Linked DNA regions of Homo sapiens. The protein of the gene in region 2 purifies or fractionates together with the protein of the main gene of each other region. This does not show direct contact. Each region holds a gene or a part of one and is shown on either strand. Other genes may lie near its edges.

Region 1 (7,026 bases), on a different chromosome or scaffold from region 2:
AAATTACTAGATATGCCAAAAAGCAGAAAATAATGTGACCTATAACCAGGAGAAAAATAAAGAACAGGAATTACAGAGATGATGGAATCAGCAAAATAAGACCTTAAGAACAGCTATTATACATATGCTCAATATGCTGAAAGATTTAAAGAAAAACATAAACATAATGTGGAGAGAAATGGATGATTTAAATAAGACCAAATACTAGGTGTGGTGGCTCACGCCTATAATCCCAGCGCTTTGGGAGACTGAGGTGGGTGGATGACCAGAGGTCAGGAGTTCGAAACCAGCCTGGTCAACATGGTGAAACACCATCTCTATTAAAAATACAAAAATTAGCCAGGTGTGGTGGCAGGTGCCTGTAATCCCAGCTACTTGGGAGGCTGAGGCAGGAGAATCACCTGAACCCTGGAGGCGGAGGTTGCAGTGAGCCAAGATCGCGCCATTGCACTCCAGCCTGGGCAATAAGAGCGAAACTCCACCTCAAAACAAAACAAAACAAAAAACAAATGAAACTTCTAGAAGTGAAAAATACAATGTCTGAAATGAGAATTACATTAGATGAGTTTAGTAGATGGGATACTACAAAGGAAAATATCAGAATACTTGAAGACACAGAATAGAAACCATCTGAGAGAGAGAGAGAGAGAAACAAACTTGCTTCTGACTACCAAGGAGCATGGATCTTGGCTTCTCACTGTAAAAAAACAAAACAAAACAAAACAAACCCAACTGAAAAATGAAACAAAATATGTGAAACAACTGCTTTCAGACAATAGAAAAAAGGACTGGTCCTTAAGAGAAGGGAAACACAGGAAGTAAGCCCCACATTTAGTCTGACTTCCTACCTGGAGGCATATTCTAGGTCTTGGTACTGGGAGTAGAACCTCAGGCAAATCACAGAGATTGAGTTTAGGGAGGCTGCAGGGATTCTTTAAAGATCCATAAATAGTCTGGGCTCAGAGGCTCATGCCCGTAATCCCACCACTTCAGGAGGCCAAGGTGTGAGGACTGCTTGAACCCAGGAGTTTGAGGTCAGCCTGGGCAACATGGCAAAACCCAATCTGTATAAAAAATACAAAAATCAGCCGTGCATGATGGCTACTTGGGGGCCTGAGGTGGGAGGACTGCTTGAGCCCAGAAGGAGAGAGCCTGCAGTGAGCTCTGTTTGCACCACTGTACTCCAGCCTGGGTGACAAAGCAAGACCCTGTCTCAAAACAAACAAAAAAACAAACAAAAAACCCTGTAAATAGAACCACACATAGGCCGCATGCAGTGGCTCATGCCTGTAATCCCAGCACTTTGGGAGGCCAAGGTGAGTGGATTGCTTGAGCTCAGGAGTTTGAGATGAGACTGGGCAACATGGTGAAACCTCGTCTCTACCAAAAAATATACAAAAAATTAGCCAGGCACGGTAGCGTGCACCTGTGCTCCCAGCTACTTGGGAAGATGAGGTAGGAGGATCGATTGAGCCCAGGAGGCAGTGGTTGCAATAAGCCAAGATCATGCTGCTGCACTCTAGCCTGGGTGACAGAGTGAGACCCTGTCTCCCAAAAAAAAAAAAAAAAAAAAAAAAAAAGGTAAGTTGGGGAAAGAATCTTTTCAACAAATGATGCTGGACCCAAAATCGACTTGGAAAAAACTTAAATATGTACCTGCTGATATGACCCAAAATGAAGTATAAAACAACCTATGACGTATTCTAGCCAGAAACAATTAATTTGAATCCACAAAACTCCAGATCTAACATCCAGTTCATAGAAAATACAGGAGACTGGGGACAACCTATGAAAGACATCTCGAGAAAACAACCAAATAAATACAAAAGAGGCTGTACGTGGGACCTAGGCCTACTGTCTTTATAAGTGCCATGTAACTAAAGGAGGCTGAGTTTGGAAGACAGTTTGACAGTTTCTTAAAAAATGTAAACATAAATCTACCATATGACCCAACAATTCTACGCCTAGGTATGTACCCAAGAAAATGAAAATCTATGTCCACACAAATACTTGTACATGAATGTCCAAAGCAGCACTATGCATAACAGCCAAAAAGTGGAAACAATCCAAATGTCCATCAACTGATGAACAGACAGAGAAAATGTGATTTATCCATACAATGGGCTCTTATCCAGCCATAAAAAGGAAAGAAGTACTGGCACACACTACAACATGGGTGAACCTTGAAAACATTACGCAGAGTGAAAGAAGCTGGACACAAAAGACCACATGTTGCATGATTCCATTTATATGCAATGTCAGAAAAGGCAAATCTACAGAGACAAAAAGTAGATTAAGTGGTTGCCTAGGGTTGGGAGGAGAGAAGTGAGGGTGACTGTTAATGGGCACAAGGGATCTTTTGGGGGTGATAGAAATGTCCTAAAATTTAACTGTGGTGATGGTTGTACAACTTTGTAAATTCATTAAAAAGTTTTGCACTGTACACTTCAAACAGGTAAATTTTATGGTATATAAGTTATACCTCAGAAAAAGCTGTTAAAAAAGAGAAAAAAGGGAAGGGACAATGCTAGGTTAGCAGACAGAACACAAGGGACATAACCAGATGCAATACTTACCTCTGGACTAGAATCTGGTTTCAACAAACCAGATACAAAAGACATTTTTGAAACCAGATATTTTGAAAGATATTTTGAAATAAATGTGAGTATGGACTAGGTATAAAATGAAAATTTATTAATATGGAAAGTTAAACACAATTAACTGAGAAGAGTAGATTATAAAACAGCTAATGGTGCAGCTTCTATAGAAAAACAGTACGGAAGTTCCTTAAAAAATTAAAAATATATTTACCATATGATCCGGCAATTCCACTTCTGGGTATAGACACAAAATAATTCAGGCCAGGCCCAGTGGCTCACGCCTGTAATCCCAGAACTGTGGGAGGCCGAGGTGGGTGGATCACCTGAGGTCAGGAATTTGAGACCAGCCGGATCAACATGGTGAAACCCCATCTCTACTAAAAATACAAAAATTAGCCGGGCGTGGTGGTGGGCGCCTGTAATCCCAGCTACTTTGGGGGCCGAGGCAGGAGAATCACTTGAACCTGGGAGGGAGAGGTTGCAGTGAGCCAAGATCACGCCACTGCACTCCAGCCTGGGCAACAGAGTGAATCTGTTTCAAAAAAAATAGAAGACTTCAAAGTAGGGACTCAAACAAACATTTGCACACCCGTGTTCATACCAGCATTATTCACAATAGCCAAAAGGTGGAAGCAACTCAAGCGTGCGCTAATGGACGAATGCATAAACAAGATGTGGTCTATCCATACAATCAAGCTTAAAAAGAAAGGTGATTCTGGCCGGGTGTGGTGGCTCACACCCGTAATCCCAGCACTTTGGGAGGCCGAGGCAGGCGGATCATGAGGTCAGGAGTTCAAGACCAGCCTGGCCAACATGGTGAAACCCCGTCTCTACTAAAAATACAAAAAGTAGCCGGGCATGGTGGCAGGTGCCTGTAATCCCAGCTACTCGGGAAGCTGAGGCATGAGAATCGCTTGAACTCAGGAGGCGGAGGCTGCAGTGAGCCGAGATCGTGCCACTGCACTCCAGCCTGGCGACAGAGTGAGACTCCGTCTCAGGAAAAAAAAAAAAAAAAAAAAAAGAACTAGACAACAGGAGGGAATGGTATGCAAGGAATGCCAGGGAGGCCCGAGAGGCCCAGACTGCTGGTGTCTCCAGAGAAAGGGTACTAGTGAACATGCTGCACATCCGCCCCAATCAGAAACCTCTGACTTCTCCACCTGTTTCTCTCCCCAAAAGCAGAGGAAGTGCTGACCAGACCTACCTGACAGTTTATTTTTTTCCCAGGGAAATTATAAAAGGATATTCTAGTATATAAGTCAGTCTCTCATGCGTTTGGCTAGTATGAGCCACCTCTATGTACACCAACAGAATCAAATTTCTGAGCCTACAAAATGAGAACTGGACCTCATGACTTAAGTGACTATACAATGGTGCCATCCTACAGCCTTTGCTAGGTAGTCAGCTAGGCTTTCCCCAGGAAACACCCTCTTGTGGCCTACCATTAGATCAGCAGTCCCCAATCTTTTTGGAGCCAGGGACCAGTTTTATGGAAGACAATTTTTCCACGGAATGGGGGGATGGGGGATGGTTTCAGGATGATTCAAGCACATTACATTTATTGTGCACTTTATTATTATAATATATAATGAAATAAGTATACAACTCACCATAGTGTAGAATCAGTGGAACACTGAGCTTGTTTTTCTGCAACTAGATGGTCCCATCTGGGGGTCATGGGAGACAGTGACAGTTCATCAGGCATTAGATTCTCATAAGAAGCACACAACGTAGATCCCTCACATGCACAGCTGACAATAGGGTTAGTGCTTCTATTAGAATCTAATGCTGCTGCTGATCTGACAGGAGGTGGAGCTCAGGTGGTAATGTGAGTGATGGGGAGTGGCTATAAACACAGATAAAGCTTTGCTCACTTGCCCACTACTCACCTCCTGCTGTGTGGCCTGGTTCCTAAAAGGCCATAGACTGGTTGGGGACCACTGCACTAGATCAGACATTGTGCAGTAATTTGCCATAAGGCTGTTAAAGTTTTATTTTTTAAAAAGAAAAAGCACAAACAGAAGCTGGGAAACTTTTTGTTAGAAACTTAGAGTTCCTGTTATTTACAATACCGATTTTATAAATGCACAGAAGAGAGTTACACAGCAGATGTGAGACTGCTATCCTTAGGAAGGTCTGCTTCCAAGGCTGCCCCTTGCCTGGCATCTGGGAACTTGGCTAGTAACAGTTCTCTACACAGATACAAAATTTTCCCTAAATGATGGAGAGTGTCTCGCTGTGTCTAAACTGATGTACAATGTAGTTCATGCTGAAAACCTGCTTGCCTTCTGGGAGTCTGGAATTTTGGTTCATGCTAGGCAGAGGGTGCCTATGTGACCAGCTTGGGCACTGAATCCCTAATGGGCTTCCCTGGACACATGTTGCTGCATTTTCATTGCTGTGTGGCCCTCTCAGGGAGGGACAGATGTAGGAAGCCTGCACCCAGGCTCCTCCAGACCCCCCATGTCTTCTGCCATCATGATCTGGCTGTGACCCCTTACTAGATATGGTAATAATCTCAGCCTTGAATACAGCTGTATACTGGGACCCACTTGTCCTAGTTCTAGACAGTCTCTGGATTTGGGGTGGTCTTGGAGATCCCAAACACAAAAGTAGAGTATACATCTAAGCAGTTTGAGAATTATTTTTGAGAAATGCTACTCAAGACTGCAATATTTCAATTGTCCTCAGACATGGTAATCTTTGAAGGTATAATAATTTAAAAAAAAAAGTCAGTGCCAAGAGCCAAGTCTGAATGACAAAGAGGTATCAGGATTAGTAAACTCATAAATACTGAAAGAGGACAGGTTCAAAGTGGCAACATAAGCAGTTAAACAAAAGTGATATCGAATAAATACTGTATAGTTTCTTTCCTTTTCTCGGGTAGAGACAGGATCTTGCTATGTTGCCCAGGCTGGTCTCAAACTCCAGGGCTCAAGTGATCTTCCTACCTCAGCCTCCCCAAGTGCTGGGATTATAGGAATGAGCCACTGCACCAGCCAATACTGTATTGTTTCTTTTGAAGCAATTAGAACAGAAAATTTCCTGAAAGAACCAGGGTGGAAGACTACCACAGGCCCTCTACCAGATACTATTTGTTAACAAGGCAGACAAGAAGAAAGACTTTTTTAGGTAGTGGTCTCCTGCAAGGATGCCTTTTATAATTCTACCTCCGCCTTCCATACGTCCTATCCAGAAAACTTGCCTTCCAAACTGCACTAATTATCTCTTCCACTAAAATACAAATATTTAACTGCCAACCAGAGCTTCTAGTTAATTTTGCCATTTATAAGCTGGTGACTTCATAAAAGCCACTTCACTTCTGTAAGTGACTGAGCTGAGATTTAAACAGATTCAAAAATAATTTCTAGACCACCATCACTGCCTTCAAGAAAGGAAAGTATGAAATGAGAGTTATGTAAGAGGTGAAGTCAGCCCAGTCCTATTTTTGTAGCATATGTCACCATTTCCACTCCCCAGTGACAAGCACAAAGCCACCTAGAGCACATCCTGCTTGTCCTTTGGGGCATCTCTGTCATGTGCTTATAGTCACTCCTCTCCATCTATGTTATACTGATCTTACTCCAAGCCTCTTTCATGTTGCGCTTTGTAATGAATTTCCAACTGCTCAACCTTTCTGATGGACAAACCGCCCCTCATATCTTCCAAGAGAGACGACTGAGACATGAACTGGAGGAGGGGAGAGACGACTAGGTGGGTGAAGTGCATAGCTGGAGACTCAGAGCAGGTAGGTTCTTTCTGGGGGACACTCCAAAGGGGTGTTACCCTGGGTAAACCCAAAAGACTGTTTCAGACAGTATGGCTATTATACACTGCAGAGCATATCAGGTTCACTGCTGGCCACAGAACCACCAGCAGCTCCAGCAGCAGCAGTGCTAAGCAAAACAATCAATCTGGTTTCTTACAGGCCCTTGAATGTTGCCTGTTTAGCAAAACGCTTTTGCAAATCACTTCCAAGTATACAGGTAATTTGCATCCTCAGTGTCTTTTTTTTTTTTTTTTTTTACATTTTCCTACATATTTTCACAGGCTAAAATTTTACGGCTATACTCCTTGTGACAGCAGATCCACTGAGGGGGAAGGAAGCAAATGGTAGGCACTGTGGCAGGCTTGCAATAAATGTACTGATTAGAGGCGGGAATGAAATGAAGTACAGTGTGGTGGTGAAGACACTGAAGTCAGACTGCTTGCTATGTGAGCTTAAGCAAGTTATTTAAGTCACTGAGCCTCAGTTTCCCCATCTGTAATGTGATTATAATAACTGCACTTACTTCATAGACTGCTATGATAGACTACTGGGACATTTAACTGAGAAAATGCATGTAAGTGCTCATCCTAATACAAAATAAATGGTTTGTTGCTATTATTTAATTTTTAAACAGCCCTGCCGGTTAGGCATTACCAT
Region 2 (7,026 bases):
AGACAGTAAATAATTAGGCTTTGTAGGCTTTACCATCTCTATTGCAACTACTCATTTCAAAGCAGCCACAGATAATATATAAACAGATGAGTATAGCTAGTTCCAATAAAGCTTTATTTGTGAATTCTGATAATTTTCACGTCATGAATTATTAGTCTTTGATTTCTTTTCCCAACCATTTAAAAATGCGGAAACCATTCTTAGCTTACAGGGTATATAAAAACAGGCAGCAGGCTGGATTTGGCCCACATGCTGTAGATTGCCAACCCATGCTACAAAATATACCTTAAAAGCCTGTCACCTCAAAATTTCAAATCACTGCTTCCCAAAGACTTAAAGTGATTATTCAAATCTTCCTCAGTAACTTCTTTTAGATCAGCTGGTTTCCATTTTGGACTCTGGTCTTTATCAATTAAAACTGTCAAGAGAAGATACAAATGTTAATACCATTATTTTTGTCTAATATTGCTAGATTTTACTTACTGAATTGACAGAAATTCTTATACTAGGCACATTTTTCTATCATACTTTTTTCCTGCAAAATTTTTATATGTATTCTATTTTTCTTTTAAATTAAATCTCCAGGGATGGACAGCAATATACTTTTGATGACTGGGGTGGATATTTTCTAACTTCCTAAGCCTCATGTCTTAGCTTTAATAAAGCCTACTGAATTAATCCAGTGGTTTAAACATTAGAATTCTTTTTTTCTTCTTGAAATAAAATTGCCAGTGAAACCTCCACATTACAAAACAGGTAAAACCAGTGGTTTAAAGTAAAGGCAGGGGAGGGCAGAGGGACCAGATGTGCCTTCTAACCTCCTCCACATTGAATTTTGGGAGGAAATTAATTGCTTAAGGTAGAGAAAAGGGGACTTCATGCATAATTAAATGTGGATACTGTTGTTCTGCTGAATCCTCCAGTTCAGACAGCTCTGGATTTAAAAAAATCAGGTTATCATGAAACCGTCTAGTTCTCCTATTTCAGTGTAGTCATCACTCATCATAGCCACATAGTATCCCCACAGGATTATGAGGCAATCTGTAACTTCTCCGAAAAAAAAGGGGGAGGAATGTCCAGTATACTGTAGTTACACACACGTTATCATTTGGGAGACTGGGTGGAAGGTATGCAAGATCTCTATATTATTTCTTACAACCGCATGAATCTACAATGATCTCCAAATTTTAATGTTATGGTTGTGGCAGCAAATTTCAACCATGCTTAAAATGCACATAATTCTTGTGAAGAATGGAAATATTTAAATGTGCAAACTATAGTGAACTAGAAAAACCTAATTTAGCATTTAAAGGCTAAAATAGTTAAAGAAGCAGTATGGGAACCAAGGAAGAAGACTGCCTTGGTAGGTGGAGGGAAGCTTTTACATACAATTAAATGCAGATACGGGAGGTTTGTTTTTAAGATTTAACTGCCTACTATGAGATTCTGGTATCAGATCAGTGGCGATATTAAATACTGATGTTCTGATCCCTACTATTTGAAAGTTTTATATTCCGTGGACAGTGTAAACAAAGAACAACCCCGGCACATTTTTTCCACAAGAATCTCTCTCACTCTAAGTCTTCTGGTCAATACTACCTGTCTCCTTGAGATCCCACTGAAGGACAAGAGCAAAGAGACTATTAATCAAATTTGTTATTTTATTTCAAGCTAACAATTTTTTTACTAGAATACATACAAGTTCGTGCCATGTAGGCAGCTCAGGTTTTGCAAGTCTCCTGAGATAGCCACTACATGGAGTTTGAGTGGGTATCCAGCTCCACTAAGATGGTCTTTTTTTCTTCTTCTATAACCACAAAGTAGTAATTTGTTCTAGATGTTAACAGTAAGAATTTTTAACAACTGTTAAATTTGCTAACTTACTTTAACTTGCTAATATGTTTTTATTATTAGCAAACTGCAGCAAACATTTGACTATGTAAAGAACACAACAGTTTTCAATCTCAGAACAGACGCTGCTTTCTGAAAGAGGCGGCAATATACTTTCTCTTCATTAAAAAGTAGCATAGGCCAGGCGCGGTGGCTCAGGCCTATAATCCCAGCACTTTGGGAGGCTGAGGTAGGCGGATTACGAGGTCAGGAGATCGAGACCATCCTGGCTAACACTGTGAAACCCCGTCTCTACTAAAAATACAAAAAAATTAGGCGTGGTGGCAGGCGCTTTTAGTCCCAGCTACTCGGGAGGCTGAGGCAGGAGAATGGTGTGAACCCGGGAGGCGGAGTTTGCAGTGAGCCGAGATTTTGCCACTGCTCTCCAGCCTGGGTGACAGAGTGAGACTCCATCTCAAAAAACAAAACAAAACAAAAAAAAGTCGTATAATAAGCACTTCCTTTATGAATCAGAACTTTGATGCTGATTGGTTTCAACATTTTTTCCTCAAAATAACAGTATTTATCTAAAAACAGTATCTTTCTTTTTAAAGAAGGGCTATTATAACATATAATGAATACTTTAACAATATAACCCTGTATGCTTACAGGTCCTCTAAAATCAGAGTTCTAGGCTGTAATCCACATGCAGCAAGAATTTGCAGAGAATTTGTGAGGAAAATGCCTATGTTACTTAGTTTCTACAAGACACACTGCCATCTCCTCTGATCAGCTCCATGTGCTGAATACTAAAAAGATTTCAATCAAGTCCTTATTTCTGATATTGTATCATGTCAGAAATGAAGAGAACTCTATGAAGAGTGATTGTTTATCAAAGCTTAAGAGCTGAGAGAACATAACATAACCTTTTATTCAGATAAAAAAGTATATCCAGGCTGGGCACGGTGGCTCATGCCTGTAATCACAGCACTTTGGGAGTCCAAGGCAGCCAGATCACATAATATCAGGAGTTCAAGACCAGCCTGGCCAACATGGTGAAACCCCGTTTCTACTAAAAATACAAAAATCAGCTAGGCGTGGTGGCATGGGCTGGTAGTCCCAGCTACTCAGGAGGCTGAGGTAGGCAAATCACTTGAACCTGGGAGGTGGAGGTTGCAGTAAGCCGAAAGTGCACCACTGCACTCCAGCCTGGGTGACAGTGTGAGACCCTGTCTCCAAAAAAAATAAAATAAAATAAAAAAAACAAAGGATATCCAGAGTCTGCACTATAGTAAAATAATTAATAAAAACAGGAACATTAGATATGCAAAATACATGCAGAGGGAACAACTCATTTTATACAACATAAATAACAGCTTTTTATAAGGATAAGAATTATGCATAAAAAGGAATTGTTGCAAGTATGCTAGAAAAAACAGTCAAGCACGTCAAGCACTTCACTTGCTTTTTCTAAATATGCTGACATTGGAGATTATAAGCAAAATGGAAAGTATTAATAAGACAATCTGCAGATGTTACTAATGACATCATATGGTCTTTTTCCCCAGCAATGTTTAACTGCTGAGGTACAGGCAAGAAGGTGGAAAGTAGGGTTAGACCACTGGTCAATTTTGCCAGGCCAGCACGAAAGAGGGAGAAAGGGTAGGGGATTTGAGGGCTTTTTGTAAGGTAATAAATGCATGTTTCAAAGGCCACAGCAGCAGGATGGCAGCAGGATGAGTTTACAAGCTCAATGCTGCACTTATCAGATGCAGTCCATGATTGTAGGGGCAGGATTACCTTATATATAAATTAGGAAACAGTGGCCAAGTTATGTGAATTTTTAAAACAATTATCAGTTTCAAAGACTGATCTTCCTTTTCATATCCCAGATGGTAACATATTCTTTAAAAACATACACAACTTTGCAATCTTAATAAAAGTTTAATTTTCACTACTAAAACAACTATAGGTTGAGTATTCTTTATCTGGAATGCTTGGGATCAGAAGTGTTTCAGGTTTGATTTTTTTTTTTTTTTTCAGATTTTGGAATATTTGCATTATACTTATGGTCCAATGAACATTTGAGTGTCATGTTGGTGCTCAAATAGTTTCAGATTTTGGTACATTTTGGATTTTAGGATTTGGGATGCATAATCTGTATCTTCTTTAATTAACAGCATATGCTCACAAATCCCATTTCCCCAAAATGGTAAGTTCCCATTTGCCACTTACCAGCTCTAACGCCTTCATGAAAGTCATGACCTCTCTGAAAGAAAATTGAGATTAAATGGGGATAATTTCTGGGTGTCCTTATTCTGGGTTATTTTCTCTCTCCTCTATTCACTTCAGCCTTCCACTCCCATGGCCACAACCTGAACCATGACATTCAGAGACTGAACCACCTCTGATAGCCCACTCTCTGATCACCACCTCCTAAATCTTATTTGCTCAAGTATCTCCACTGCTACAAATCATTGATCTTACTGAGGTCCACAGATCCTATGACTTTCTCCCCATCTGTGCTGGCTTCACTTTGCTCTTCATCCAGCCCAATTTCACCAGTCCTTTAATATGGTCACTTTCCTGTCAAAATGTCATCATCTCCCTCAAACCTTTTTTCCTTTTTTACAATCCTAGCAAAATCCTGGCACCAACTAAACCCTATCACGTACCCCTGCCTGCACTTCAGCAGCTAAGTCTTGCTGCAGAAAATCATACAACTGTGACTGGTTTCATTTAAAATTCATGATCAAAAATCTCAAACAGGCACAGAAAACTGCCAAACAATCCAAGATCTCTTCCCAACTCCCCAAGATAATGATTTTAAGTGTTTTCTGCCTTCTCAACCTCTACCCGTAGAGCACACTCTTATTATAGTCTCAGCCAGTTACTTAACCTCTGACTTCTTTAAAAATACGAGAAGCTCTTAGATATGAAGTCTTGTCTTCTCACCACTAAAACACCTGCAGGCAACTGTGGCCATCTGCACCTGCCTTCTCTTTCAATGCCGTGGAGGAAAGGACCATCCCTTTTTCAAAGACCAGTCCTCCCTTGCATTCCAATTCACATCCCCTCTTGCCTTCTCAAGGATGGACTTTGCTTGATGTGGTCATTCACTTTTATTTTCCTAGAATCATCGATGTAGGCAATATAGCTGAGTTCAAATGTCTAGGTTCACATCCTGATAGCTACATATTAACTATGTGACCTCGGACTAGTAATTTCTCCAACCCTAGTTTCTTTACATGAAAAGGTAATTTATATATCCATCCTAGGATTATTTTAATCCACATCCAAGCACAGTGTCCGACACTAAGTGTTCAGTAAATATTAACTACCATTAGTATCATCAACATAATCTTGTTTCTCTATTGGATCATTCCCAATCATTTTTAAACATGTTCTAGTACCTTCCATCTTACAAAATAAAAAAGGAACTTCATTTGATTCCACAGTCCCAGCTTCTATCCTATTTCACTTTCAAGAGTATTCATCTACACATATTCTCTCCACTTCTTCACATCCCATTTTTCCTCTCCAACTTACTACACTCTAACTTCTGCCCCCACTCCTCTAAAATGGCTTGCCAAAACCACCCATGACATCGGCATCGCCAAGGTCAAATGACACTTCTAACCTCGTCTACACTTTGACAGCGTTCAACACTGTCCATTACACCCTCCTCCCCGAAACATTCCTCACTTTCTTTTGTGACACTACACTCTCCTGGTCCTCCTACCTCTCCATCCTTTTTTTCCTTCCTACTGCTCTTTCTCTACCACACCTCAAAATGTTAGAGTTCCTTAGGGCTCAGGTCTGGACTCTCATTTTCTTTATAATATGATCTTACCTATTCAGTGCTCAACATAGCAGCCTGAGTGATCAATTCTTTAAAGTATAAGATCATGGCATTCCTCTCCTCATAATCACCTAGTGGCTTCCCATTTTACTCAGCCAAAGTCCTTAGAGAGACCTTCAAGGCTCTGTATGCTCTGCACAGCCTTTCTCTACACTGTTTCCTCTGACCTCATCTCTCACTCACCACAACCTCTGCCCCCCATCCGCTTCCACACGGCCTCTTTGTGGTCCCTAGCACAGGCAGTCATGCTCCAGCCTCACAGCTTTGTTCTTGCAGTTCCCACTGCCTGGGATGCTCTTCCTCTAGATAATGGCATGGGCTCACTTCCTTACTTCTTTCAGGAATTCACTCAAAGAACATCTCAGTGAGGCCTTCTCTGGTCATCCCATCTACAATTCATCCCCCTGTTACTCTATATCACATATCCTGCTTCCTTTTTCTTGTTAATATTTATAATCATATAATATATATTTTATGTATTAATCTTGTTTACAGTCTATTTCCCCATTATAAAGTAAGTTCCATGAGGGCAGGTGTTATCCTACTCCCTACTCCCCAAGATAATGATTTAAACTGTTTTCTGCCTTTTCAACCTCAACCCCTGGAGCACACCTATGTACCTGGAACCTATGTACCTGGGTACCTCTAACAGTGTCTACGACATAGTAAGCACTCTTGTTTAGTAAATAACGAATCCCCAAGGTTTTCTTAATTGCTGTTGGTGTCTTTCAGATTTAAATCTCCAACTCATTCCTCTAATCTCTAACTCCTAAATGCATTCCTTCCCTCACATCCAGCAAGTCCTATCTATTCTATCTCCTACATGTGTCTCAAATCCATTTACTTCTCTCAATTGCCACCATGCTTGTCTCAAAACTACTATTTCACACCTGGATCACTGCAGGAAATCTATATCTGGTCTCTAAACCGTTCTTGAACCTCTCCAACCCTATCTCCACACAGCAGCAACAATTTCCTTCTTAAAGCAAATTGAACCGAATGAAATGAAAAATCAAATCACCTCCTGCTTAAGCCCAAGAGTCTTCTCAACATACTCCTTTCTCATCCTTTAGGTCACAAATGAAGTGACATCACAAAGATGTCTTCCCTGATCTACTTAAGGAGGTTTCCCATTGCCCCCCAACTCCCTCCTGTCCCTGCATAATCTCTTCTATCACCAACCCTGTATGTTTTCCTTTAGAGTACTTATCACAATTTATAATTATTTTACTTATTTTGTTTACTTGTTCTTTGTAGTCTCAGTAGACTAAACCCATGAAAATAAAGGACTGTGTCTTCTTATTCAACAATATAAGGCTAACACTGAGCACAGT

What was found. Proteins that work in one complex are often made in the same cells at the same time.
Region 1: the proteins of HIBCH (region 2) and MKRN2 purify together in Homo sapiens (affinity purification with mass spectrometry; 3 studies listed by BioGRID and IntAct, with this or other methods). This does not show direct contact.

What each region holds. Positions count from the first base shown.
Region 1 is NC_000003.12:12,560,079-12,567,104, reverse strand, and holds part of MKRN2 (E3 ubiquitin-protein ligase makorin-2), read right to left. Parts: intron 6,349-7,026; exon of another isoform or gene 6,106-6,348; intron 1-6,105. UniProt on the Homo sapiens protein: E3 ubiquitin ligase catalyzing the covalent attachment of ubiquitin moieties onto substrate proteins.
Region 2 is NC_000002.12:190,204,815-190,211,840, forward strand, and holds part of HIBCH (3-hydroxyisobutyryl-CoA hydrolase, mitochondrial isoform 1 precursor), read right to left. Parts: intron 4,100-7,026; coding exon 4,066-4,099; intron 419-4,065; coding exon 303-418; 3' UTR 1-302. UniProt on the Homo sapiens protein: Hydrolyzes 3-hydroxyisobutyryl-CoA (HIBYL-CoA), a saline catabolite. Has high activity toward isobutyryl-CoA. Could be an isobutyryl-CoA dehydrogenase that functions in valine catabolism. Also hydrolyzes 3-hydroxypropanoyl-CoA.